Linked DNA regions of Homo sapiens. The protein of the gene in region 1 purifies or fractionates together with the protein of each later gene. This does not show direct contact. Each region holds a gene or a part of one and is shown in the gene's direction. Other genes may lie near its edges.

Region 1 (7,010 bases):
AAATTAAATGGGAGTTTAATTTTAAGTTTAAATATTTTCATTTTTTCCCCACTAACATTATAACTTATAGTAATATGCTATGAAGTAGGTAAGTTTGACTAGGTAGGATTTTACCTTATATGCTGACTTTAGAATCCATCCTTGGCTTAAGATGCAACTCCACTGCACTAACACATTCAGTGATAATTGAGAGGAAATCTACAGAAAGGACATAAGGGTTTAGACTGACAACATCTAGTGATCGCCTAATTAATATTTGTGAAACCAATAAGTGGATGAAGTGTATATTTGAGAGCCACCAAATAAATGAAATTGAGTGTATATTATTGAGGGTTTCCTTCCTCCTATATGTATTTTTAAGTATAATTAGGATAGTTTTATATACATTATTTATAACCTGCTTTTAAATAATAGTTATTTTCTTTATTTGCAAAAAATAAAACATTTTTACTGGAAAAAAGTAAGGTAACTATAGATACATGCCACATGTCAAGCAGAGCCAGATCCTTTCTGTTTCTATTCATACATATTTTTTAAAGAATTGAATTGGCAACTAAGAATACTATTTTATAATCTGCTTAAACTATTATATTATTGCCATAAGTATTACTTTCTCTAGCAAAAATATTTCCCTAGAAAATATTTTCATCAGGTCAAATTTAAGAAAGAGATGCCTCCTTCCCCATGTTAAAAATGTAGTAGTACACTTTGACCATCTCAAACTTGATTGAAGGGAGGGATAGTCAGAGGAAGGGGAAGAGACCCTCATTTCTAATGCATACTAGTTACAAACATGTAGTCCTTTGAGGAGGTCAGCGGAGCAAGGGAAGGAAATGTGAGGGATTCAACCATCGTAAGGATCTGAAGTCTCAAACAGGTAGTGGAGTCCCTTAATTCAGACCCTGTTCAGCTACAGAGAAGTATGTATATGAAATATGTGCCATAAAATAAAATCATACTATTTGCAGACATTTCCTTACTGTAGAAGTTACATATGCCCCCTGAGAAAATGTAGAAGAGTCTACAATGAAGTAAAAAAATACATATAAATCATCCATAAGCCCACCAACCACCCAATCATACCTAATTCTAATACTGTTACTGTTAATAACCTGCTTTTTCCTTACATAGCAATATACTATAAAAATTTTCATTTCAATAGATACATGGCTGTCTAATATTTGTCAGATATTTTATTTCTTCTTCATTTTTCACTTTTGTCTCAAACATTTTTCTGAATATTAGTAATTAATATATTACTTATTATTTATTTATTTATTATTATATTTTAAGTTCTAGGGTACATGTGCACAATATGCAGGTTTGTTACATAGGTATACATGTGCCATGTTGGTTTGCTGCACCCATCAATTGTCATTTACATTAGGTATTTCTCCTAATGCTATCCCTCCTCCAGGCCCCCAGCCCCCGACAGGCCCCCGTGTGTGATGTTCCCCACCCTGTGTCCAACTGTTCTCATTGTTCAATTCCCACCTATGAGTGAGAACATGCGGTGTTTGGTTTTCTGTCCTTGTGATAGTTTGCTGAGAATGATGGTTTCCAGCTTCATCCATGTCCCTGCAAAGGACATGAACTCATCCTTTTTTTATGGCTGCATAGTATTCCGTGGTGTATATGTGCCACATTTTCTAAATCCAGTCTATCATTGATGGACATTTTGGTTGGTTCCAAGTCTTTGCTATTGTGAATAGTGCCACAATAAACATACGTGTGCATATGTCTTTATAGCAGCATGATTTCTAATCCTTTGGTTATATACCCAGTAATGGAATCACTGGGTCAAATGGTATTTCTAGTTCTAGATACTTGAGGAATCGCCACACTGTCTTCCACAATAGTTGAACTAATTTACACTCCCACCAACAGTATAAAAGCATTCCTGTTTCTCCACATCCTCTCCAGCATGTTGTTTCCTGACTTTTTATTGATCACCATTCTAACTGGCGTGAGATGGTATCTCATTGTGGTTTTGATTTGCATTTCTCTGATGACCAGTGATGATGAGCATTTTTTCATGTGTCTGTTGGCTGCATAAATGTCTTCTTTTGAGAAGCGTCTGTTCATATCCTTTGCCCACTTTTTGATGGGGTGGTTTTTTTCTTGTAAATTTGTTTAAGTTCTTTGTAGATTCTGGATATTAGCCCTTTGTCAGATGGGTAGACTGCAAAAATTTTCTCCCATTCTGTAGGTTACCTGTTTACTCTGATGGAAGTTTCTTTTGCTGTGCAGAAACTCTTTAGTTTAATTAGATCCCATTTGTCTATTTTGGCTTTTGTTGCCATTGCTTTTGGTGTTTTAGTCATGAAGTCCCTGTCCATGCCTATGTCCTGAATGGTATTGCCTAGGTTTTCTTCTAGGGTTTTTATGGTTTTAGGTCTAACATTTAAGTCTTTAATCCATCTTGAATTAATTTGTGTAACTTATTAGTAATTTAAATATATAAATACAACACTTAGAAAATAAAAGTTCTCTTTATATGAAATACACATTCTCAAGTATATCCTATGATGTTCAGGATATATTCATCTGCATTTCTAATGATATAAAAATACAGTAAGACCCTGAAACAACTTGAGTTTGGATATAACATGATTGGTGATAGCAGGTGGGGAGAGAGTAAAATGGATGGATGATATTTAAGTCCAAGTGCTCAGTGAAGAATTGTTTGTGGCAACAAATCACAGCTGAGTCCTTGATGAATTTGGGTTGTGTAGCCAGCTAGCCAAATAGACTCACATCAGTCATTCCATCCATCCATCTCTCAGTAACATAACCTGGAATTTTATAGAATGAATTTCTGGACTTCACTTATCATGTTATCATGTAATTTAATTGTATACTCATATTTTAAATACACAAATATGTATACTGTTACAAAAATGTAATACCACATATAAAATTAACTTTCAATTTGCCTTTTTTTGTTTAACAATATACATTGAACAATTTTTTTCATGTGAGTAAATGTAACTCCACATCATTTTTTCATCACTGTATAATGTGGCTCTATATGAATGATCAAACTTTTCTTAAACCAATTTCCTTTTAGAAACATATAAGTTTTTGGCTCTTTAAAAAAAACACTATTGCCACAACTACTACAATGACCATATTTGGCATAGGAGTATTAATGTATGATAAATCTCTAGAAGAGGAATTGATGTGTCCAAAAGCACATATCTTCTAAAGTTTGATATTGCCAAAATGACTTCCAAAAATGTTGTACTACTTAATAGTCTCACAGTACATGTGAATATTTGTTTTACCATATGCTCATCAACTCTGAATATAATCAATATTTGTCTTTTCTAATTGTACAGATGAAAAATTAACTCTTATTTTTATTTTCAATAGATCTCAATTCTATGAGCATATGCTATTATTCCCTTCTTTCAGATGAGGAAACTCAGGTTCACAATGTGTACCTGACGATTAATTGATGATTCTTCAGGCAGCACAGCTTCCTGGTAACACCACCATGAGGACTCTGGAATGAAACATTACTCTTTTTTAAAAAATTCTGTATCATTTTCCTCACAAAACTTCTAATATCACAACAGCTTTCACTTTAAAAGCACTTACTATATGCCACATGTACAATAAGCACTGTACATGTATTAACTCATGTCATTAAAGTAATTTTTTCTTTGTCTTTTCTGACTATAAAAAGATAAAAGTTGCCCAGTGCAGTGGCTCAGGCCTGTAATTCCAGCCCTTTGGGAGGTTGAGGCAGGAGGATCACTTGAGCCCAGGAGTTCGAGACCAGCTTGGGGAACATAGACCCTGTCTCTACAAAAAAATTAAAAGACTAGCTGGACATGGTGGCACACACCTGTAGTCCCAGATACTTGGGAGTCTGAGGCAAGAGGATCACTCGTTTCGAGGAGTTTGAGGCTGCAGTGAGCTGTGATCGCACCACTGCAACCCAGCCTGGGCAACAGAGTGAGACCCTGTCTCAAAAAAAAAAAAGAGAAAGAAAGACAGAAAAAAGAAGAGAGAGAGAGAGAGAGAGAGAGATTAAAGTTACCTTTTTAAAAAGGATATAGAAGTACGAAAAATAAAAAGTAAAAATTGCATTCAGAAATCTCACTCTTGTTCCAGGGTCTTTTTTTGTTGTTGTTTCACAACTGCTGCCAAGGCCACCCTGCTCTACAACAGCTAAGAACCAGATTGCAGAGGAAATGGAGGCTAGAGGAGGGACGACTGATGGAGGAGTTATCCTGGGAGTGGAAGAATGGAAGAGACAATTCTCGAAAGAAGTAGAAAAGTTCAGTAGCTCCAGAAAAAGAGGTAGCCCCTCCCTAGTAATCAGAGTCAAGCAAATAACATTTTTCCCGCTGGGATAGGAAACAACAGAAAAGACTGACAGGGCCAAATGTATAAGTGGGGGGCGGGGAGGGAGAGAGGGTGGGCCCACTTCTGCCGCGCTTTTGGTGGGAGTGGAAATTAGGGACCCGAGCTCACTGGTGACGTAGATCTCATGTGACCAGGAGTCGACGTGTGCAGAAGTCCTGGTAATCTGGTCCTTGTTCCCGTCTGGATACCAGCTTCCTTCAGCAGCGCAGGCGGTGGTCCCTGAGGCCCGTGGAAGGAGTCAAACTTGCGGGAATTTTGCAGGTTGGTGTCACTGTAGGTGTTGACTGGGGATTTCTAGTGTGGGGGGGTTTAAGGCAGAGACTTGTGGGAGTGCCGGTCAGGTCCGTCCCTCCACCCTCCACCTCCAGGTCTACGGGAACTGATGACCCTTGGGAAAGGGACTAGGGGTCCTAGGAGAAGAACAGGGAGACCTGTGGTAGTTTAAAAATAATCATCCTCTGCTATCTAAGACTGCTTTCCGGACCCCCACCCTCCTCCCGAACCCCGCCTCAGTCTTAAAGATAGTTTGGAAATAATCTGCTTTCTCACTCTTTGTCTGATGGGAAAAACGAACTGACTTGCATGCACTGTGGAGAGGGGGTGAACTAGGGGAAACAAAAGGTGGGAAACTTTCCATATCCGAAACCCTAAAGGAGGAAAGCTACGTGTGTCAGTCTCTGGCGCTGGTCGGCCCACCAAGCGCTCGCCCCACCCCCACCGTCCCCTCCCGTTTCCAGTTTATCTGCAGGGCTGTTGTTTCCAGCAAGACCCAAAGCTAGAAAAGGAGGAGGAAGAAACTGACCCGATCAGTGCCAGGTAGGTGAGAGGAATATTATAAAGTCTCCTGGGGTGGAGACAAAGGTTGTAAGCGCCACCGTTCCTGCCGGCTCCCTTCCACCCCACCCCTTTCCCCTCTTCTTTTCTCTCCCCCTTCTCCTTTCCCCTCTTCCTCTGCCTGCCAGCCACCTTTCTCTTTTCTGGCCTGGTCCCTGTGTTAGGCCCTATGGGGGAAAAAGGTCTGGGGAGGGCTGGACGGCGGAAAGGAGGGCCTTGGAAAAGGTTAGAGGGAAGGACAAGAGAGAAGTGAGGAGGTGGAAAGTGGAGGTAAAAGGAGTGGGGATAGTGAAGCTCTGATTGCTGACTGGGCTTCTTAGGTGGAAGATATTTTATAACAGCTCTGAATAAAAAAAATTAAATGCTAAGGCCTCTGTCCACAGCACCTGTCCACTCACCAAGTCTTTAACTTACTGTCTTCTTTTTGCTTTCTAGAAGTCATTGTATTCAAAGAAGAATAAGCAAGAAAGAAAAGAAGGAAGGAAGAGAGGTAGACAGATACAAGATGAAATCCTGTCAAAAAATGGAAGGAAAACCAGAAAATGAGAGTGAACCAAAGCATGAGGAAGAGCCAAAGCCTGAGGAAAAGCCAGAAGAGGAGGAGAAGCTAGAGGAGGAGGCCAAAGCAAAAGGAACTTTTAGAGAAAGGCTGATTCAATCTCTCCAGGAGTTTAAAGAAGATATACACAACAGGCATTTAAGCAATGAAGATATGTTTAGAGAAGTGGATGAAATAGATGAGATAAGGAGAGTCAGAAACAAACTTATAGTGATGCGTTGGAAGGTTAATCGAAACCATCCTTACCCCTATTTAATGTAGTTTACCTTGATTTTTATCTGATATTAACAATACCATATAGCTTGCTTTTTATTAGCATTTCCTGATATTCCTTTGTCCATATTTCTACTTATAACCTGTTGCTATTAATGGTTTTAGATGTATCTCTTGTTATCTGCATCTCATTGTTTATTGTATTTTGAACCAATCTACAAGTCTCTGTCTTTTAATAAAAGAACTTTACACATTTGTAAAAAAGAGGTTCTTGGTAAGATATAAAATGGAAAAAGGCTAAGTAATATGTGAATATCATATTTTTGAAAGGTAAAAAGTACATTTGTATATTACATATATGGACATAACTTGTGAAGGATGAAAGAAAGTACAGCCTCTCGGTGGTGGGATTATGAATGATTTTTCTCCTTTTGCTTGTTTGTATTTTCTATATTCCTAAAATTAACACACATTATTATTGCTAGAATAATAAAAGTTTTATAAAAAAGAAGCAACAAGCAGCACGTATTAGTTTATTTCTAAAAGTATTGGGGCATTTAATATTTGTTGACAGAATTTTAGAAGAAATGTGAACTTGAAAGTAACTCCAGACCACTTAGCTAGAATAATAAATTTTACATATTTTCTCATCTTTAAAATAAAGAAAATAATCTCACAAGGATCTGGTGAGGGCCAAATAGAGTAATGACTGTGAGCTATGTTTGACAGAGTTTTGTTCCCATCCCAACTCCGTAAGAGATTAATTTCAGCGATTTGGAAGGGTGGAGAAAGTAGTTCTTATCTGTGATTAAGAACAAACCCAAGGCCGGGCGCGGTGGGTCACACCTCTAATCCCAACATTGGGAGGCCAAGGCGGGCAGATGACGAGGTCAGGAGATCAAGACCATCCTGGCTAACATGGTGAAAGCCCGTCTCTACTAAAAATACAAAAAATTAGCCGGGCATGGTGGCAGGCGCCTGTAGTCCCAGCTACTCGGGAGGCTGAGGCAGGAGAATGGTGTGAACC
Region 2 (7,036 bases), on another chromosome or scaffold:
TCCTTAGTCACTGCTTCCTTCATGCCCCTTCTGTGATCAAAAATATGATTGCTCCTTAATCCATCTCCCTTTAGTTTGTCTCATCTCCCTATCACTTTTCTAACTTTATGTTCCATGCCACCCTAAAGCGAACTTGTTTTTCAGTTCAGGCTCCTTGTATTGCCCCAGGAACATGCCATTTTCATTTCCAATATGGTCTTGTATGAACGATTTCTCCTTTTGTCCTCCCATCTGCTTATCCAAGTCCTGACTATTGTCTAAGGTTTATCTTAGTTCTTAACCATTGCCTCAAAACCTTTTAAGCTTATTGAGCATCTACTTTTCTTTACCTTATAAACATTCAGTTTTTAATTTAGTACTGACTTACATTGATAGTGTTATTTTTGCCACTCCACGGATATTGTGAACTCCTCAGACCAGGCATCCCATTGTGTGATACTTTCGTATACTTCATAGAGGCTAGCACAATGCTGAGCTCAAAAACTAGTTGTTGAATTTCAGTAAAAGTAAGTAGAGCATTTTTCCCAACATTAAAAGTTAGTGGGCATGAGATGACATTCTTTTGGTCTACTGGGAAAAGGGTATCTGACTAAAAGTTAGAAACACTTTTATTTTGCATAAAAATGTAACATTAAAACACAGAAGGAAAAAGAAAATGAATTCACTGAATTCATTTGTCTTTTCCATTGGTTCGTTGTCAATGTCTGATGTCCTGGCCATAATGGAAAAAACAGTTGGCATAAAAGACATGGGTTGAGACTGGCTCTGTCATTTAATATTGGGTTCTGAAAAAAGGCCAATCCTGAGTTGTAGCTTTCTCTCTGTAAAATGGAGTTAATATTACTCTAGATTATGATGAAGATGAAATTAAGTAGTGGATATGGAATGCTTTGTAAATTTGAAAGTAATGTAGAAATCTTGGATAGTGTTGTTGTGTTCCCATCTTGGATGATAGCTGTGAGTTTGCATTTTACAAAAATAATGGATATCTAGAATCACTATAAATAATGATCTACTGACAGTAACTGCTTTGATATTTCCAGGTCAGATTGGCTTTCTTGCCTCTCAGGAGGAGATAGACTTTTACTCTAACAAAGTGATGACCTGGGGGTTTCAGGGCATGCTTCCTGAGGAAGTGACATTCAGACCTGAAGGATGAGTAAAGCTAGTCAGGGGAAAGTATGAGGGAGGGGATAAGGAGATGACGGAGAAAGAATAACTACACTCTGGGAACTGAAAGAAGCTTCATCTAGATGGCTGAATGTTGTCATCTGAAATTGATTGCTTAATCCTGTTAATCCTTTTGATTTTAATTCTTCATGGAAGTGATCTATTAACATTCCTTTATAGCAACAATTGAATAGAATTTATTAACATCTTTTTTTCCTTATCTAGCACAGGTATATTTACTTACTAAAGCCAAAGCGAGAATCTTTTTCTTTAGACATTGTTCCATTGTATTGTGTTCTCTTTAGTTGGCATTTCCTCTGTTGCCATCAGTTACCTCCTTCATGTCCTTTTTGTAAACTATTAAGAGAATTAGAAAATTGGTGTTGGACAGGTTTTTGTTTGCTCTTGTCTGTAAAAACATGGCATGGTTTGAGATGTTTGGAATGGGTTCATTTGGTAATGTTAGGGACCGCTCATTTCTGCTTAAGAAGAATGGAGAGGAAAAACTGGGGAAATATTAGGGTTGGGAGTTCTGGAATAGAAAGCATTCAGAATGGCACTTAGCCTACACAGACTCTAAGTAGGTAGGGGCTGGATAAATGAATGTTCTACATTAGTATAGGCAGAACACATTAAGAGAAAGGAAGACAATGAAAGTGAACAACAAGCTGGTAGGTTAAGGTCCATATGCTGATGATTAGGAACTAAAGCCTCTAAAGAAAACAGGCATCCATGAGGATGCGGGAGCTTAGAAATCTCTTACTAACTTTAACTTTGCTAATTGATCCTTTGATATCATATAGTTTTATATTCATGTATCAGAACTTGCTAACAACCTCAGTAAACTTCATTCAGTTCAGTCCCATAAACAACAACAAAAAAATTGCTACTTATTTCTTGTAAACCATATAGAAGATCTGAGGGATACTTTACAGAGGGATAGGTCAGGCCTGGAAAAAAAGCCCTACCCTCAGGCACTGAGCTAATGGAAGAAAGACCAGGCATTCTCAGTATTTGGCTTGACTTGTAAAAATGCCATTCAGAAACTTGTAGGGAAAATCTGCTTTTAGCACATCACTAGTTGTTGCAGTATTTTTCTGCAATAATCAAAAAAGGCAATTGAAGACAAGGGTTAATCGTTACCAGGTTCTTTAATGCCAGTAAATATGATTGGTGTTAGAAATGTATGCTGACTATAACATTTATTTGTTGATTTTTTTTTCTTTTTTTTTTTTTTGAGATGGAGTCTCGTTCTGTCACCCTGACTGGGGTGCAGTGGCGCGATCTCTGCTCACTGCAACCTCCACCTCCCCAGCTGAAGTGATCCTCCTACCTTAGCCCCCCAGGTAGCTGGGACCACAAGTGCGTGCCACCACACCTGGCTAATTTTTGTATTATTTGTAGAGATGGAGTTTCGCCATGTTGTTCAGTCTGATCTTGAACTCCTGAGTTCAAGCAATCTGCCTGCCTAGGCCTCCCAAAGAGCTGGGATTACAGGTGTGAGTCACCGTGCCCGGCCAGGGAAGTTTTTTTAAACATTTTATTAGTAGTACTGGGTTTATTTTGAGCTATTTATTTTTTCTCTACATTTCCTTTTGAACCAACCACAAATTTGTGAGCCAAGTGATCAGTGGTAGAGGTTCTCTTATTGTGGAATAGAGTTTTGCTCCTGGTGAAGTATAGAGCTCTGTATAGCTAGAATAAAAAATACTGTGAATATCTGAGAAATGTAAAAGATTCTTTGTTATTTTTTAAATCGCCTTAAGAGATAACTGGCTGCTTAAGCAAAAATAGTAACAATGTATTATGTTGTTTCTAAGCAATTTAAAAATATTGTATAACAGCAGCCCAAAAAATGAATGGGAAAGTGGAAATACATATGCAAGGCTCTTAAAATACATGTGCAATGGGCTAATATCACTTGAAGACTGACTGTGATAAATTAAAAGATGCATTGGAAAATAACAAAGGAGTACAGTTAGTAAGACAATAAAGCAGATAAAATGGAATTGTAAGAAATAATATATAAAGAAGTAAAAAAAAAAGTGAACAAAGTGTGATCATTGAAACAAGGAGTTAATGTTCTGTGGGCTGTTTTTTCTGTTGTTGTTGTTGTTCGTTTAACTCACTCCCTACTCTTAGAGCTGAGCGTGAGGGTGGCCTGTATTCCTTTGTATCCAAAGTATTGGTAGGTACCCTTTCTAGAAGAACTCAATTCTGTACTGGAAGTCTTTCGCCAGTACTCAGGATATCTCTCACTTTCTACAATACGCCGTTTTACAGCCCCCACATTCACTCTGCACCTATCTCTATCCCTTCATTAGTACTTTAGGTGAAAAAAGGTTAGTGCTTTTACTTTGTCAAATCTAAGATATTGCATAATGAAGTAGAATGATCTTTGATTTTTCTTCAGTGCTGTCTCAACATACTTTATTTTTTCTTCCCCTTAATTCAGAGACATGAAAAATGCTGTAATTGGAAACAACAAGCAGAAAGCCAATCTCATTGTTTTAGGAGCTGTTCCAAGGTATGTTTGCTGTCTCACCCCTTTCTTGCCATTCATACTAGTTTCTAATGTATTTCTTACTCTCAATTATAGAACCCATTTTTCCTGTATTGTCTGTCTAATTCTTAAAATAAATCCTATTTTTAAAAATAAATGTAAGTATTTAAACTATCTTTAAGGAAAAAAATTATAAAGTAACAGAGAATGTAGTAAGAAGTGAATGTGTTAATACATTTTGGAAACTCAGGAAGACCTTTGACCTGATGACAAAAGGGTTCGTAAAGTACATATGCAATGTACAACAGCCTGATACTTTCTTCTCCATTTCCTTAGAGCCTTGGCAGTTTTTTGTGTGAGTGGGTAATTTATTAGGAGCCTTAAGACCTTTTTGAATTTAAAGGAAAAAAACCCTGCTTGATTTTTAATCCAGTTTCATTTTTTAACTTCTGATTTTTACAACTTGCTGTTTTTTAAGTTAACGTAAGAAGTTTAGGAAGTTTAATTTCTTCTTTTGATGACCTAATAAGCTTCCTTTAGGCAGGCAATGACAGTTACATAACTTCCTCTTTACTTTTGCTCCTCAGAGCTAAGTTTTCTGTGCAATTGCTATTAGCTTTTCATTCAGAATTATTTATTATTTTGTTTTTTTCTCCTTATTTTCTGGTTTTGATACAGAATTAATGGTTTAAGTGTTTTAACTCACCAACCTCAAACATATACTTTAGTAACTATAAAGCTGTCAGCAGCCTTTCTTAGGGGATTTATGTTTGGTATATATAAATAGTGCTTTATGGAGCATGAGGGTCCTGTCTTAGAACATAAGGTAGATGGTTATAAGTGGAGGAAGGTTAGGGTTTGGGGAGTATTTGTTTGGCAAGCTGGGCTGGAGTGGAAATGAGAGGATCTCTTCCTTTTCCAAATGAGAGAGCTGGAGAAAGAAGAAACTACCTTTGCTTGAGGAGCTGCACAAGGGCTCTGAATATTCCCTATAGGCTCGATATCTACAAACTGCACCACTGCTCTGGATTCAGAGCAGTAGCATTTCTAGTTTGAGTTTAAGATCTGGCAGCACATGGCATTTGAGAGTCTTCATATTTTGGAGACCCAGCAGGAAGTGGTAGATGACATGGACTCTGATGACGCTGTTTCTACAGAGACTATCTGTGGACAACTTTCAGATTTACACTTTTTATAAACTCTAAGAATATGATAGTTCTTTTTTTCAAAACCTCTTCTAGATTTTTTTTCCAGATGTTTCTTTAATTAGCAGATGAGATAAACAAATGACCATTGGATTCATATAAACTCAGCCAACCATATTTTTAGTATGTGGACTGCACAGCCTTTTTTGGTCACATTGAGTCTTGTTTAAATTTTTTAGTCTCTTCGTTTATTAAGTTCCTTCTTTTTAGATTGTTGTACTTGCTTCAGCAAGAAACCTCAAGCACAGAGCTGAAAACTGAATGTGCAGTGGTGTTGGGAAGTCTTGCTATGGGTACTGAAAACAATGTCAAGTCTCTACTGGACTGCCATATTATCCCTGCCTTATTGCAAGGTATGTAGGGAAGCCATTTTTGCTCAATTAAGGTTAAGAATCAGTTTGCAGTGCTTTAAATACTGGTTGAAAGGATTAGTCCTAAATCTCATTTCTGTTAATAGGACTACTGTCCCCAGACCTGAAGTTTATTGAAGCTTGCCTCCGATGCCTGCGTACCATCTTCACCAGTCCTGTCACTCCAGAGGAGCTACTGTATACAGTGAGTTTTAGATGTATTTGAGACATTAGTTACATTTCACCAACAGCCTACTCCTAATTTGCTTAGCATCTTCAGACTCATCATAACTGTGTTATGTAAAAAAGTCTCAGTTGGTCATGGTGGCTCACACCAGTAATCCCAGTGCTTTGGGAGGCTGAGGTGGGAGGATTGCTTGAGGCCAGGAGTTCAAGATCAACCAGAGTGACATAACAAGACTCCATCTCTTTTTTTTTTTTTTTTTTTGAGGTGGAGTCTTGCTCTGTCACCCAGGCTAGAGTGCAGTGGCGCGATCTCGGCTCACTGCAACCTTCACCCTGCCAGGTTTAAGCATTTCTCTGCCTCAGCGTCTGGAGTAGCTTGGATTACAGGCGCGTGCCACCACACCCGGCTAATTTTTTGTATTTTTAGGAGAGATAGGGTTTCACCATCTTGGCCAGGCTGGTCTTGAACTCCTGACCTTGTGATCCACCCGCCTCGGCCTCCCAAAGTGCTGGGATTACAGGTGTGAGCCACTGCGCCCGACAACAAGACTCCATCTCTACAAGAAAAAAATAAAAATAAATTAGCCTGGTGCAATGGCTCATGCCTATAGTCCTAGCTCATGAGACTGCAGTGGAAGGATTGCTTGAGCCTAGGAGTTTGAGGTTATACTAAGCTATGATGGTGCCCCTGCACCTCAGCCTAGGTGACAGAATGAGATCCTCTCACTAAAAATAAAAAATGATAAAAGTCTCCGCTGGGTACAGTGGCTCACGCCTGTAATCCTAGCAGTTTGGGAGTTCAAGATGGATATATCACCTGAGGCCAGGAGTTCGAGACCAGCCTGGCCAACACGGTGAAACTCCCATTTCTATTAAAACTACAGAAATTAACCGGGCACGGTGGCACATACCTGCAACACCAGCTACTCGGGAGGCTGAGCCATGAAAATCACTTGAACCCAGGAGGAGACGTTGCAGTGATCTGAGATCACACCACCCTACTCCAGCCTGGGCGACAGGGCAGACTGTCTGCTTTTAGAGACTGTCTCTAAATAAGTACATAAATAAAGTCTCAAAAAGTATTTGAGTTCTTTCTTATTTCCAAATATCAGATGCTCTCAGCTTTGTAAGAAAGTGAAAGATAGTCTCAGACTTTGAGGAATTTACAAGCTATTTTTAAAAAGACCCATTTTTATCTCTCTATATGTAGAACTTAAGTTTATTTTACGCTAGATGAATGATAGGGAGTTCAGCTGACTTTCGGTTGAAATCCAGCAGAGTAGGCTTTGCAGAGAAGCTAGAATTTAATCTGGGTTTTGAATAATGGATAAGACTTAGAGAAGTGGAGAGGAAGGCATGAGGCACCGTGCTCAGCCCAAATTCATTTCTTCTGGCTTTTTTTTTTTTTTTTTTTGGAGACGGTGTCTCTCTCACCGAGGCTGGAGTGCAGTGGAGGAATCTCGGCCCTGCAACCTCCGCCTCCTGAGTTCAAGCAATTCTCCTGCCTCAGCCTCCCGAGCTACTCAGCTGGGCCTACAGGCATGTGCCACCACGCCCAGCTGATTTTTGTGGTTTTAGTAGAGACGGGGTTTCACCATGTTGGCCAGGATGGTCTGGATCTC
Region 3 (7,036 bases), on another chromosome or scaffold:
CCTGTTGTCAGACCCAAAATAGAATAGACCCTGTTCTATTTTGCAGGGCTTCAGTTTCTTTTCTGGGCAGGGGTTGGATAGCAGACTGGAGATCTCTAAGGAATCAGCAGTTTGAAAACCTCAAAGGCCAAAAGCTCAGGAGCTTCTGGGAGATATAAGACTTTATCTGCCGGGCATGATGGCTCACGACTGTAATCCCAGCACTTTGGGAGGCTGAGACAGGCAGATCATGAGGTCAGGAGATCGAGACCATCTGGCTAACACGGTGAAACCCCGTCTCCACTAAAAATACAAAAAAAAATTAGCTGGGCATGATGGCGGGCACTTGTAGTCCCAGCTACTTGGGAGGCTGAGGCGGGAGAATGGCGTGAACCCGGGAGGCGGAGCTTGCAGTGAGCTGAGATCACACCACTGCATTCCAGCCTAGGGGACAGAGCAAGACTCCGTCTCAGGGAAAAAAAAAAAAAAAAAAGTGTGAACCTGGGAGGCGGAGCTTGCAGTGAGCCGAGATCACGCCACTGCACTCCAGCCTGGGCGACAGAACTAGACTCCGTCTCAAAAAAAAAAAAGACTTTATCTAAAAAATGAGAGGGCTTTGAGTCCTTGGAGAGCCTCCACTGGTCCTGAGTCATTTGTCATTTCTCAGTTTGAAGAACATGGGTGCTCTGGTAGCCTGCTTATATAGTTGTGGTCCCACTCCCCTCTACCCTCACTTCCAATTCAGAGCTGAGGTCCCTAGAAATGCAGCCACTTCTCTTGGCAGGAGGGTTTTTGACAGGCTGTTTTTTGTTTTTGTTTTTTTGGGACAGGGTCTTGCTCTGGCACCCAAGCTGGAACCCAGTGGCACAATCATACTAGCTCACTGCAGCCTCAACCTGCAGGGCTCAAGTGGTCCTCCTGCCTCAGCCTCCCAAGTCGCTGGGACCACAGCTAATTTTATATATTTTGTAGAGACGGAGCCTCGCTATGTTGCCCATGCTGGTCTTGAACTTCTGTTCTCAAGAGATCCTTCCACACAGGCCATTGTTAACCTGAACTTTGCCAGCTTGGAACCTCTGAGGACTCTGACTGCGTATGGACTGGAGATAGGCAGCTGCCACCCTCCCTGTTTCCACTTCTCTGTCAGCTTGGGGATGACATTGAAGCATTGGACTAGGAACAAATCCAGCCCCACCACCTTTGCTAGCTTTATGACTACTGGCAAATTGTCGAACCTCTGAGGCTTATTTTTCTCCTTTGTAAAATGCAATAAGCCTGCTTCCCAGAGTTGGTGTGAGGATCAGATGAAGTAATGGATGGAAAAGGGGCGAGGTGCGGTAGCTCACACCTGTAATCCCAGCACTTTGGGAGGCCGAGGTGGGCAGATCACTTGAGGTCAGGAGTTCAAGACCAGCCTGGCCAACATGGTGAAACCCTGTCTCTACCAAAAATACAAAAATATATATTAGCCGGGCATGGTGGTATGTGCCTGTAGTCCCAGCTACTCGGGAGGCTGAGGCAGGAGAATTGCTTGAACTCGGGAAGCAGAGGTTGAAGTGAGCCAAGATTGTGCTACTGCACTCCAGCCTGGGCGACAGAGTGAGGCCCTTCTCCAAAAAAGGATCTGGCATGCACAATAAGTTTCCATAAATATGTGTTAAATCAAGAGAAGTATCAGGTCTGAAGGGCCGCAGGGGATAGATCTTTTGGATTTAGTTCCCCTTAGCAGGCTTTCTTTGCGGGTGGAGGAGCTATGCACCTGCCTAAGCATCTGATTTCACTTCTGGCCAGGCCGCCAGTGAAGAGAAGGCCATGGTCTAATTAAAACTACCTAGCCCGGGGCCGGGCTCAGTGGCTCACGCCTGTAATCCCAGCACTTTGGGAAGCTGAGGTGGGCAGACCACAAGGTCAGGAGATCGAGACCATCCTGGCTAACATGGTGAAACCCCGTCTCTACTAAAAATAGAAAAAATTGGCCTGGCGTGGTGGTGGGCGCCTGTATTCCCAGCTACTCGGGAGGCTGAGGTAGGAGAATGGCGTGAACCGGGGAGGCAGAGCTTGCAGTGAGCCGAGATCGCACCACTGCACTCCAGCCTGGGCGACAGAGTGAGACTGCATCTCAAAAAACAAAAACAAAAACAAAAAAACCTTCCCAGCTGGACACAGTAGCTCATGCCTGTAATCCTAGCACTTTGGGAGGCTGAGGCGGGCAGATCACTTGAGGTCAGGGGTTCAAGACCAGCCTGGCCAACATGGTGAAACCCTGTCTCTACTAAAAATACAAAAATTAGCCAGGCGTGGTGGTGGGCACCTGTAATCTCAGCTACTGGGGAGGCTGAGGCCAGAGAATTGCTTGAACCAGGAGGCAGAGGTTGCAGTGAGCCAAGATCGTACCACTGCACTCCAGCCTGGGCTACGGAGGGAGACTCTGTCTCAAAACAACAACAACAAACCAAAAAAAACAACTACCCGGCCCTAGCACTGGCTCCACCATGGGGTGCAGAGGCAGAGTAGCCCCAGGGGCTGGCCCTGATGACTGTTCCTTTCCCCCCACAGGTATAGCCTTCACAGACCTCCCGGTGAGTACTACTATTGAGTCTTCCCCTCCTGGGTTTCTGGGGGCTGACTGGGATGGGGCACGGTGGTACCTGCAAGTGCAGGGTGTGGAGTCTGGTTCTTTCCCCAACCAGGGATGTGTGCCATGCTGTCAGCTTGAGGGTACCAGGAGGGGCACTTGCTGGCCTTCCTCTCTCTCCAGCAGTAAGGTCTGGTCTTCCTACGACTCTTAGCAGGTGACAGTAATTTGTGGCACTTCCAAAGGCAGCTGTGGGGCTGGGGCGGGTAGGGTGGTGGAATGAAGATAGCTCCATGGCTCAACTGGTCTAAACCAGCTGTGTGTCAGCTGGGGTGCAGAGTGTAGGGAATTGTTCCTGAACTGTGAGGGAACCTAGTCCTTGTACATACCCATCAGAGATCCCTGAGGAAAGTTAGTGCCCTAGGGGAACTCATCTGCTACTATCTAGGGCACCCCCAAGCCAGAGAGGTGAGCTTTGTGGGGTCTTCTCTTCTTAGAAAAGGATGGAGTTTTCTGGCCGGGTGCGGTGGCTCACACCTGTAATCCCAGCACTTTGGGAGGCCGAGGTGGGCAAATCACGAGGTCAGGAGATCAAGATCGTCCTGGCTAACAGGGTGAAACCCTGTCTCTACTAAAAATACAAAAAAAGTTAGCCGGGCCTGGTTGCAGGCGCCTGTAGTCCCAGCTCCTCGGGAGGCTGAGGCAGGAGAATGGCCTGAACCCGGGAGGCAGAGTTTGCAGTGAGCTGAGATCGCACCACTGCACTTCAGCCTGGGCGACAGAGCGAGCCTCCGTCTCAAAAAAAAAAAAAAAAAAAAAAAAAAGAAAAGGATGGAGTTTTCTGCTTGCTTAGTTCAAAAAAAAAAAAAAACAGAAAAGGATGGAGTTTTCTGCTTGCTTAGTTCAGGGCATATCCTCACCTCCAGCCATCCCGCACCTGTACTCCAGTCTCTATTATGAGTCATCACAGGCCTAATCACATGCAGGGCCTCCACCCAGGATGCTGGGAGCCTGGCCTGGCTCTGTGTGTTCTGGTTAGGTTCTGGAAGGAAGGAAGGTTTGCTGACTCTGGTGGCTGCTTTGGGATCCCAAACACCCCAGTGATGCCCCAGGAAATGCCTTTGTGATCTTATGGGCCTCTGAAGCCCAGACCATAGCACCCAGGGTCCTGTTAAAACCTCCAGTCCATGGCTCAGAATCCTTCCCTCTTACCTGGAAGCCCCAGAGAGGGGCTGTGGTCCTAGGCAAAGAGAACAGAATCAGGTGGAGAATGCTGACCCTGGCTAGGGAAGGGTCTAGTTATGGGGACGTGACATGAAATGACCAGGCATGAGCATGGCCAGTATGCAGCCACATGCAAGAAGGTATGGGGGAAAGACATGGTAGGCAGTGACGGTCAGGAAGGCTTGCTGGAGGAGGCGGGCCTTGCCTGTGGTGGAGGATGGTAGGGGAAAGAAAGGAAGCGAGAGGTCCTCTGTGTGCAGAGCCCATGGTGGGCTGAAGCCAGCATACAGGAAAAGGTCCCATACCTTGTGCAGGTACAAAAATGCATGGTTGGCCAGGCGCGCTGGCTCACGCTTGTGATCCTAGCACTTTGGGAGGCTGAGGTGGGCAGATCACCTGAGGTTGGGAGTTCAAGACCAGCCTGACCAACATGGAGAAACCCCATCTCTGCTAAAAATACAAAATTAGCCGGGCGTGGTGGCGCATGCCTGTAATCCCAGCTACTCAGGAGGCTGAGGCAAGAGAATTGCTTGAACCCAGGAGGTAGAAGTTGCGGTGAGCTGAAATCGCGCCATTGCACTCCAGCCTGGGCAACAAGAGCGAAACTCCGTCTCAAAAAAAAAAAAGTGCATGATACTCAGGAAGGAACATGGCCTGAGCACGGAGGTGAAGGGTGGACTGAGGGCCCTGGGAAGACCATCTGCAGTGACAGTGGGGAGGAGGCTAGCGAGGCTCTGGACAGTTGCAGTGGGGAGCCACAGGAACCACCAAGTGAGGGAGGGACCGAACAAAAGCCAGTCATGGTAGAGGCTAGGTGGAAAGCAGGGAGCCTCACACCCTACTGGCCAGAAGATCCTCTTAGCGAGCCTCTAACAGGAAGGGTAGCTTCTCTTCACCCTTTGCCAGCACCAGGGGTCTAGACCACCGGTTCCCTTTTGCCATGTTCCCCTCCTCCCTCCTTTCCTGCGTCATCCCATCTCTGCCTACCCCCCATGTATCTATCTTTTGGTTTGTTTTTTTTTTTTCTTTCTGAGACAGGGACTCACTCTTGTCACCAAGGCTGGGTTGCAGTGGCAGAATCACAGCTTACTGCAGCCTCAATTTCCTGGACTCAAGCCATCTTCCCACCTCAGCCTCCCGAGTAGCTGGGACCACAGGTGCATACCACCACACCTGGCTAATTTTTATCTTTTTATTTTTTGTAGAGACAGGGTCTCACTTTGTTGCCCAGACTGGTCTTGAAAACCTGGGCTCAAGCGATCCTCCTAAATTGGCCTCCCAAAGTGCTGGGATTACAGGCATGAGCCACTGTGCCCAGCCTCATGTGTCTTATTTTTTTTGAGACAGAGAGATCCTTGGCCCTGGATCTTTCCAAGAGGAGCCATGACCCACTATTGCAGCAGACCTTCATGGGCACGTCTGAAGGGTCGTGGAGCCCAGCCCATTTCTGTATGCTTTGGCTGAGTTCCAGAAAGGGCTCTTGGGCCTTGAGGACACAATGGCCTCTGATACAGGGCAGGACACTCTCCATGATGTGCCTTGCTTGCTTTTCTTTTGCTTTCTCCCCTCAAGCTTTGGGGCATAATGTCTCTGCTAGGGAGGTGGACAGAGGTGGCTCCGCCCTGCCTCCTCCAGCCTTGCTGCAACTCTCCCAGCCCAAGCATGGGCCAGCAGCAGCCATGGAGGTGAGGTGAGGCCTTAGAACCCCACTGCCCTCAGGGCCTGACTGACATTTCATTCTCCTCCTCAGGCCAACCTCTACCCCACCGTAGGCCTGCAGACACCTGGGGAGATTGTGGACGCCAACTTTGGGCAGCAGCCCTTCCTGTTTGACATTGAGGACTACATGCGGGAGTGGCGTGCCAAGGTCCAGGGCACGGTCCACTGCTTCCCCATCAGTGCCCGGCTTGGCGAGTGGCAGGCAGTGCTGCAGAAGTGAGTGCCCTGCTCCTGCCCTTACCCACTCCCACCCCACCCCAGCCCACTTCACTCTAGGCCCCTGTAGGGCTACAAGCTGTTCTTACAAATTCCAGCGGGTGGATCCTTTCTGGGAAGCATTCCCAGGGCCATTCAGCCTGCAGCTCTCCTGCTTCTCTGTCGTCGGATGGACAGCTCCCACCGAGTTCTCCGGGCTGCTCCTAATTAAACCTTTGCCTCTCAGCCATATTGGAGGCTCCTGTATATAAGATCACCAGCAGGGCTGTTTTCCTTCCCCAGGTCATTTTGCAGAGGATTTTGCAGAGGATGCCCTGTGGTCTCTTCCTCTGTGGACCCTTTTTCTACCATAGGGAGTATCCATGGTGCTGTGACTCTGGCCTGAGGCCACCTCACAGGGCCCAGCATCCAACTGAGTCTCATTCGTCTATAGCGGTGGTGGAGGGAAGGGAGTTCTCCCTAGGACCAGCTGAGCTAGCTCCTTGGCTGATTAATTCCCAGACTGTCCTGGAAGCCAGTGTCGCTGAACTCCCAAGGGAGGCCAGCTTTGGGTTTCTCTTCCACTTGCCATCTGCAAGCCTGAGTGAGGCAGTGACCAGTATCCACTCTGCCAGGAGGTGGGTGTTAGCTTGGCTCTCAAGGATGGGCAGATGGGCATGGGGAAGGGCTGGGCTTCCACTGCCTGTGGTCATTGCCCTGCAAAGGCACCAGGGTGCTAGGATTCCTGGGGTGGGGTTGGGGTACACACTGAGTTCTTTGTGCAGCCTTTGTCCCTTGAGGCAGGCCCCAAGGATGGGCTGAGGCAGGGGCTAGGTGGCCAGACCTTCCCCAGGAAAAACAGCATTGCTGCCTCTTGTTCACAGCCCCCCAGAGCAGATGACAAGGACTTCCTTGGATGGCCAGGACAGCGCCACTCCCAGAGCAGGCTTGGTGGGATTGCCAAGAAGAGGGGTGAAGATGCCAAGTCTGTGTAGGGGAGGAACTGATACTCTCAGTTTTCAGGGCCTAGGCTCAGCACATGGATGTGTTTTTGTTTTGGGGTTTTTAAAAAAATACTGAGATGGGGTCGCACTTTGTTGCCCAGGTTGGACTCCTGGGCTCAAGTGATCCTCCCACCTCAGCCTCCTGAGTAGCTGGCATCACAGGCATGTGCTACCATGTCCAGCATAGCACATAGGTGTTTTTGTTTACATGTGTGTATCCATGTGCTTGTATGTGTTCATATGTAGCATTTGCCAAGACCTGCATATAATTTGTGTACTGTGGTTTTACATAACTTCATTTAATGAATATTGATAATGGCTATGTTATCACAGAGACAAA
Region 4 (7,000 bases), on another chromosome or scaffold:
TAAACAGTTGTAGTTGATAATCACTTACAGGAAAAGTTCTGACTGGCTCTAGACAAAAACAAAAATATTAAAGCCTCTTAGAAGTCAGAGATGTTGCAGATTTTGGAATTCCATATTAAACTTAGAGGAGATGTGAGAAAGAGCAAGGTGTGCACTTGCTCTTTTCCACCCCCACCTGGCTGTATGCTGCTGCTCTTGCCACAGCAAAGTGTCAGAGAGCCAAGGTGGCAACTGTCAACCCCACGAAACTGTGTAGGAAACATTAACTCTGCAGTCAGAGATAATGTGATGACATAATTGTTACTTCTCTAGGTAATGGTAATTATACTATGCTGTAGAGAAGAATTTAAATTATAAGTTCAGTATTTTCACTGCTTTCCTTTTCTTCCCTTTTCTCTCCATGCTGTTTAATTTAGGATGAAGGAAGAAACCAAGCTTAAGGACCAGAATTTTAAAAGACCTGTTAATACATTATTTTAGGCTGTATCAGTATGGGTGGGGGTATTCTTGCTTTTCGCAGCTTATTACTGCAAGCAAACTAATGCTTTCTTGCTGGTGCTTTTTTTAGACATTCAGGTTTTGATGGGAAGCCTTGTGTACCTGAGACAAGGGATTGAGAACTCACCATATGTTCACCTACTTGATGCAAACCAGTGGGCTGATATCTGTGACATCTTTACACGGGATGCTTGTGCCCTCCTGGGGCTCTCCGTGGAGTCCCCTCTCAGTGTCAGGTATGGAAATTAGCCCTGTCTGTTATTGAAGTATGCACTGCATTATCACCTTCCCTTAACTTGTTTGGTTCTTGATGTTTAAAGCCAAAATAACTTTTGTCTTTCCAAAGAAGAGTGCAATTGGTATTTCAAAAGATATCACAATTGGCAGTGATGCTGTTTTAGAGAAGCAGTTTTGAAAGTGTGGTGTATGAACCTCACAGGATCCTGAGAGCCTTTTCCACTGTATTGACATTAGTACAGATGGTCCAGAAACAGTGGTGGACTAAACTGCTAGAGCCTTAGCACAAGTTGGGGCGGTGGTACAAACTCCACGAATAGCTGGATTCCTCACCACCACACACTTGCAGTTTAAGAAATGCTAGTTTTACTTAACCACGTCTGTAATCTCAGCATTTTAGGAGGCCTAGGAGGGTGGATCACGAGATCAGGAGTTTGAGACCAGCCTGGCCAACATAGTGAAACCCGCCTCTACTAAAAACACAAAAAATTAGCTGGACGTGGTGGCGGGTACCTTTAATCCCAGCTAGTCGGGAAGCCGAGGCAGAAGAATCGCTTGAACCCAGGAGGCGGAGGTTGCTGTGAGCCAAGATTGCACCATTGCACTCCAGCCCGTGCAACAATGCGAGACTGTCTCAAAAAAAAAAAAAAAAAAAAAGAAAAGAAAAAAAGAATATTCTTGGCCTGGTGTGGTGGCTCACATCTGTAATTCCAGCACTTTGGGAGGCTGAGGTGGGGGGAATCTCTTGAGGCCAGGAATTCAAGACCCACCCGGGTAACACAGCTAGACTCCATTTCTACAGAAAACTTTTTTAAAAAAGGATGTTCTTGGTGAAACATTAAAATTATTAGTTTTATTAAATCTTGACCTTTCAGTACACATCATCTTAATAATTTGTATGACAAAATAGGAAATCCACATAAAGCACTTCAGTTTCATGTCAAAGTATGGTAATTGTCTTGAGAAAAAGTATGTTGTTTTGAGTTATGAGCTAGCTGGTCACTTTTTTTCATGGAATACTTGTTTTGTTTGTTACTTGTTTTTTTCTTGCTTTTTTGAGATGGAGTCTCCCTCTGTCCCCTGGCTGGAGTGTAGTGGCGCAATCTCAGCTCACTGCAGCCTCCACCTCTTGGGTTCAAGCGATTCTCCTGCCTCAGCCTCTGGAGTAGCTGGGATTACAGGCGCCTGCCACCACGCCCAGCTAATTTTTGTATTTTTAGTAGAGACAAGGTTTCATCATGTTGGCCATGCTGGTCTCGAATTCCTGACCTCAGGCGATCCACTGCCTTGGCCTCCCAAGGTGCTGGGTTTATAGGCGTGAGCCACCGCACCAGCCTTGGAATAGTTTTTACTTGGAAGAATCATTAACATAGTTACGCACACTCAGGTTTTTGGCAGTCTTTTTTTTTTTTTTTTTTTTTGTCTTTTTTCTTAAATTTTTAAGACATTCTTGCTATGTTGTTCAGGTTGGACTCAAACTCCTGGGCTCAAGTGATTCTCCTGCCTCAGGCTCCTGAGTAGCTGGGAGTACAGTTGTGTGCCACATCACCCAGCCATTTTTTTAAGTGAACGAAGCAAGCCTGTCACATTTGAAAGGTCTTAATTAAGTATGATTTTACAAAAGCATGCATGAGTAAAAGAGTCATTCAAAGTACAAGACAGACAAATGGATTTTAATGTAGCAGGGTACAAAAAGTTTAATGGTAAAGTTTCAGATTCTGCTCTGCAGCGAACCTTTAGAAAACTACTACCTGTTTTGGCCAAAACTATGAAAAGTCAGTTTTCGTGTGGTATTAAGGAGGAGTATCCACAATGATCCAAAGTGATCAAAGTAGTACTACACATATGTGTGAAACAAGGTTTTTTTTCATTTACCTCAACCAGAAGAACGTATCACAATAGATTTAATGCAGAGTAAACTATAAGAATCCAGCTGTCTTTCTGTTAAGGTAGGCATTCAGGAGAGTTGTGAGAGTTTGGAACAGTGCCACTCTTCTCACACATATATTTTTGTTTTGGAAACTGTAGTTATTTTTTTATAAGAATGTTTGCAATAATGGCATGGTATTTTATTTTTACATGAACTAATCGGCACCTTTTATGTTTCTCATTTTAATTTCTAATGTATTAAAGATATAATCCACAAAAAGAAAAGCTCTTTGAGATCCTTAATACTTAAGCATATAAAGGGGTCCTGAAACCAAAACATTTTAAGAAACTGTTGTAAGAAAATAACTCTTTTTTAGCTCTTCTATTCATTTAATTCCACAAATGTTTTGCATACCTGCTATGTGCCAGGCACTGTGGGCACTGTGTTGGATATGAAGATGAATAAGGTGCATTCCACAGGGTGCTCCATCCTAGCGTAGGAGTGGACAGATGCAATTAGCTATAATGTGAGGCGCTGATGCCATCAAGTTCTCTGAGGAAGACTCTAAAGTGGGAATGTACATGCAGAAAGTTTACTGACATCAGCACCTGTGGGAGAATGAAAACAGCAGGATTGGGCAGAGAGGAAAGTTGGACTGTATTAGAGTGGCAACAAGGTGTCTCCCATCCGTGAGGAGCTCTGGAGCTGCTGTGGGCCCGTGGAGTTGTCCCAAATTGGGCCTATAGGGCTGGGGTTTTGTACCCTCACATGGAGCAATTGCTGGATGTGACTCTGGTCAGATGACTCTCTTCAACTGAGGACAGTCCTGAAGAGACGGACACAGCTGAGAGTTGGCTGCCAACACTTCCAGATCTGAGAAATGAGTGCTTCCACCCTGGACAGGGGTGATCTGGGGATAAGAGGAACTATGCAAAAAAAATGTTTCAGGAGCAAGCATGTCATTTGACTGATAAGCTGAGCCCATTAAATCCAGTTGTTTTGTGCAATATAAAACCTTTTTTGGCACTAATGTAAGATTATTATGAAATTCTTTATATTTTACTTTTTGAAACAGGGTCTCATTCTGTTGCCCAGGTTGGAGTGCAGTGGCACGATCGTGGCTCACTGCAGCCTCAACCTCCTGGCATCCTCCCACCTCAGCCTGCTCAGTAGCTGGGACTCTAGGCACATGCTACCATACCTGGCTAATGGCTAATTTTTATATCTTTTGTAGAGACGGGGGTCTCACTGTGTTTCCCAGGCTGGTCTCAAACTCTCAAACTTAGGTAATCCTCCCACCTTGGCCTCCCAAAGTGCTGCAATTACAGGAGTGAGCCACCACCATCTGCTGTTATTAAATTCTCTAAAAACCTTATTCTCAATTCTGTACTTCTTTCCTGTGGATTGAAAATGGTGTGTAAATCAGCACCATCTGCAGACCACATTTTGAGTATCATTGTTCTAATTAGCGTATACCTTGGAGCACATTTTGTAAGAAAAATAAGTCTGGTGGTATATGGTCTGTAAGGAAGGGAATAGGAAAGGAAGTTATGTCTTGTATATTGCTGAGTGAAGAATTTTGTGCAAGAACATCTCTTTTTCCTTCAAACTCAGATGCTAAAACTACTGTATTTGGAAGAGTGTAGTAGTTCTTAATTCCTGCTCTTCATTTGAATTAATTGGTTCTCCAAAGCTGCTTTCTTTTTTAAAATGCATGTTTTAAAACTTTATTTTTCTATTTTCTGAGGAAGTAAGCTAAAGTTAAATTACCCTAGCAGATGAGTTTTTTTTTTTTAACGTTTGCGTTCTTTAACTGCATTTACCCCCATATTGGTGAGGTTTATTTAGAAAATTTAGAGTTTTATTTTTTGTTTTGTTTTTTAACTGGGATTGGTTTTCAGTAACTTCAGGAAATATACCAGTGGGCCTGGGGAAGAAGGGGAGGGAAAACAAGTTATTTCTCTTCTAGTGGAAATGGCTGGATTTACTTTTAGCAGAACAGAAAGCTCTCACCCTGTCCAGTGGCCAGGGTCTGCAGCACATAGAGTCTGGAGAAATTGATGTCTCCTTGGACCAAGCGGCCTGACCCCTGGCCTGGCACTGACGTTTCCTCTTCTGCTCTCCCAGTTTCTCAGCAGGTTGTGTGGCGCTGCCAGCTTTAATTAACATCAAAGCCGTGATTGAACAGAGGCAGTGTACTGGAGTTTGGAACCAGAAAGATGAATTACCTGTGAGTTCCATTTTCTATTGGCTATTTACTTTTACTGCCATTAGAAGAATATGGCATCTTTAAATGTTCATCTTACCTTTTAACCAGGAAACATTGTAGCCATTTGACAGGAGTTCTTTTATGGATATATAAAAGATTAAACAATACAAATGAAGAGCCTAGTACATTTTGGGGACCCTGGAGGAGGAGTATTATAATTTTGACTTGAAGTGCCTTTGAAAGCTGGTGAAGGGAAACATCAGAAGTGGGGAGGGCTGTACATACAGTAGCAGGCAGTGTGTTCTGCAGTGCAGTTCACAGACCACTCCTGTGATTGTTTTTCTAATATAAACGCAAATTTAATTGGTTTTACTTTTGTCTTAACTATTGCTGTCGATAAGATCACGAGTTTGTGCTGGTTACATTTGCCAATAGAATAAGTATAGAGCTCTTAAAGGTCGTAACACCTGCAGTCATCAGTGGGTCTCTAGTACTGTATTTCTACTGCTCTCATGGAAAGGACCATGGTTTTAAACATCAGCACGATCACTTGCCAACTCTAGAACTTCTCTAAGCAGTAGTGTATTCATCTCTAAGACAAGCACCAGCTTTCTCTTTATGGGGCTGCTGAAGGCTAGAGATAACATAAGCATGCTTAGAATAAGACGGGATACATGGTAGGCACTCAAATTGTGGCTGCCATGGTGCAGTTATGATGTGAAGTGGCGAAGGTCATTGTATGTATGTTTCCACCAGGTCTCTGACAGGCACTGAGGCTCTGGCCTGGAATTGTCGTTCCTGTCATGATTGTGTCACAGACCCTGAAAAGCTAACATACGCATTTGTTTTTTTGCCCGTTTTATACCACACCTGTACACGGGTTTATTTGCAGTTACCTTGTTCTTCCAGCAGGTAACCCTGTCAGTTGGTTGCCCCAGCTTCTCCTCAAAGATCTTTTCTGATTAAAGGCACAGGTGCAGTCCTGGTCCTGAGTGTGGTCAGGACACAAGTAGCACTCCTGCTCTACTGCCGCTAACTTGAACAAGTGAAAAGAACTTGAGCCTTCACTTGTTTTGTGGAGGCAGGTGCCTGGCATCTGGCAGTTTCCCATTTATGTTGTAAGCATCTCTGACATGCACTAAGAGCAGACTGAAATCTGAATTCACCTAAAGACTGTGTGTCAAGCCAGTAAAGCCATTAGAGGTGGTGATCAGGTCATTGTTTGTCAGACTTGTTTTTACACTTTGTCAGCTTTCTTGAAAATAATCTTGAAGGCTAATTTAACACTTTGAATCACTAAGACTGTCCATCTGAGTTAGAAGAGTGCTATAGAAAGTTACATTCAGGTGAATAGATCTGATCAATGTTCTTTGCTGCACAGTGTATATTACCATGTGGATGGTTTTGTGAAATATGACTTCAGCTTTTTTACTTTTTTTTTTTTTTTTAACAGATTGAAGTGGACCTTGGTAAAAAGTGCTGGTATCACTCTATATTTGCCTGCCCCATTCTTCGTCAGCAAACAACAGATAACAATCCACCCATGAAATTGGTCTGTGGTCATATTATATCAAGAGATGCCCTGAATAAAATGTTTAATGGTAGCAAGTAAGTGTCTGACTTTTAAAAAATGTTAGCAAATAAATTTTGTTTTGGAACTTGGTAGGAGGATAAGAAGTGATGAGGATTAAAAAAATGTAGCTAGATTTAGAACTAAATAAATTTCTTAACTATTCATTTGGCAAAGTTGGTGGTATCTGATTTGAGTATTTTTAATGTGTCTATGGATTTGGTGATTAGATTTATAAGCATGTCTTTAACTTAACTTTTGGGGTAGGTGATAGATTTTCCCCTTTTTTATACAAATGGTCGCATACTAAAAAATGTTCTGTACTTTGCTGTTTTCACTTAGTGATGTATTTTGGAGATCTTTTTCTGTGCTGCAGAAACAGCCCTCATTATTTTTTTGTTAAAGCTGCAGTATATTCTACTGTATAGAAATATGATTGGGTAGCCAGTTCCCTATTGATGAACATTTGTTTCTCTAAACAGTGCTAAGTGAAGGCCAGGTGTGGTGGCTTATGCCTGTAATCCCAGCACTGTGGGAGGCCGAGGCAGGCGGATCACGAGGTCAGGAGATTGAGACCATCCTGGCTAACACGGTGAAATCCCATCTCTACTAAAAA

What was found.
Region 2: the proteins of TCEAL9 (region 1) and ARMC8 purify together in Homo sapiens (affinity purification with mass spectrometry; 3 studies listed by BioGRID and IntAct, with this or other methods). This does not show direct contact.
Region 3: the proteins of TCEAL9 (region 1) and RANBP10 purify together in Homo sapiens (co-immunoprecipitation; 2 studies listed by BioGRID and IntAct, with this or other methods). This does not show direct contact.
Region 4: the proteins of TCEAL9 (region 1) and RMND5A purify together in Homo sapiens (affinity purification with mass spectrometry; 4 studies listed by BioGRID and IntAct, with this or other methods). This does not show direct contact.

What each region holds. Positions count from the first base shown.
Region 1 is NC_000023.11:103,351,969-103,358,978, forward strand, and holds TCEAL9 (transcription elongation factor A protein-like 9), read left to right. Parts: upstream 1-4,537; 5' UTR 4,538-4,638; intron 4,639-5,114; 5' UTR 5,115-5,193; intron 5,194-5,646; 5' UTR 5,647-5,716; coding exon 5,717-6,031; 3' UTR 6,032-6,494; downstream 6,495-7,010. UniProt on the Homo sapiens protein: May be involved in transcriptional regulation.
Region 2 is NC_000003.12:138,218,301-138,225,336, forward strand, and holds part of ARMC8 (armadillo repeat-containing protein 8), read left to right. Parts: intron 1-3,625; coding exon 3,626-3,697; intron 3,698-5,088; coding exon 5,089-5,231; intron 5,232-5,335; coding exon 5,336-5,433; intron 5,434-7,036. UniProt on the Homo sapiens protein: Component of the CTLH E3 ubiquitin-protein ligase complex that selectively accepts ubiquitin from UBE2H and mediates ubiquitination and subsequent proteasomal degradation of the transcription factor HBP1.
Region 3 is NC_000016.10:67,733,535-67,740,570, reverse strand, and holds part of RANBP10 (ran-binding protein 10), read left to right. Parts: intron 1-2,535; coding exon 2,536-2,558; intron 2,559-5,528; coding exon 5,529-5,713; intron 5,714-5,771; exon of another isoform or gene 5,772-6,022; coding exon of another isoform or gene 6,023-6,330; intron 6,331-7,036. UniProt on the Homo sapiens protein: May act as an adapter protein to couple membrane receptors to intracellular signaling pathways.
Region 4 is NC_000002.12:86,765,291-86,772,290, forward strand, and holds part of RMND5A (E3 ubiquitin-protein transferase RMND5A), read left to right. Parts: intron 1-568; coding exon 569-734; intron 735-4,732; coding exon 4,733-4,835; intron 4,836-6,267; coding exon 6,268-6,422; intron 6,423-7,000.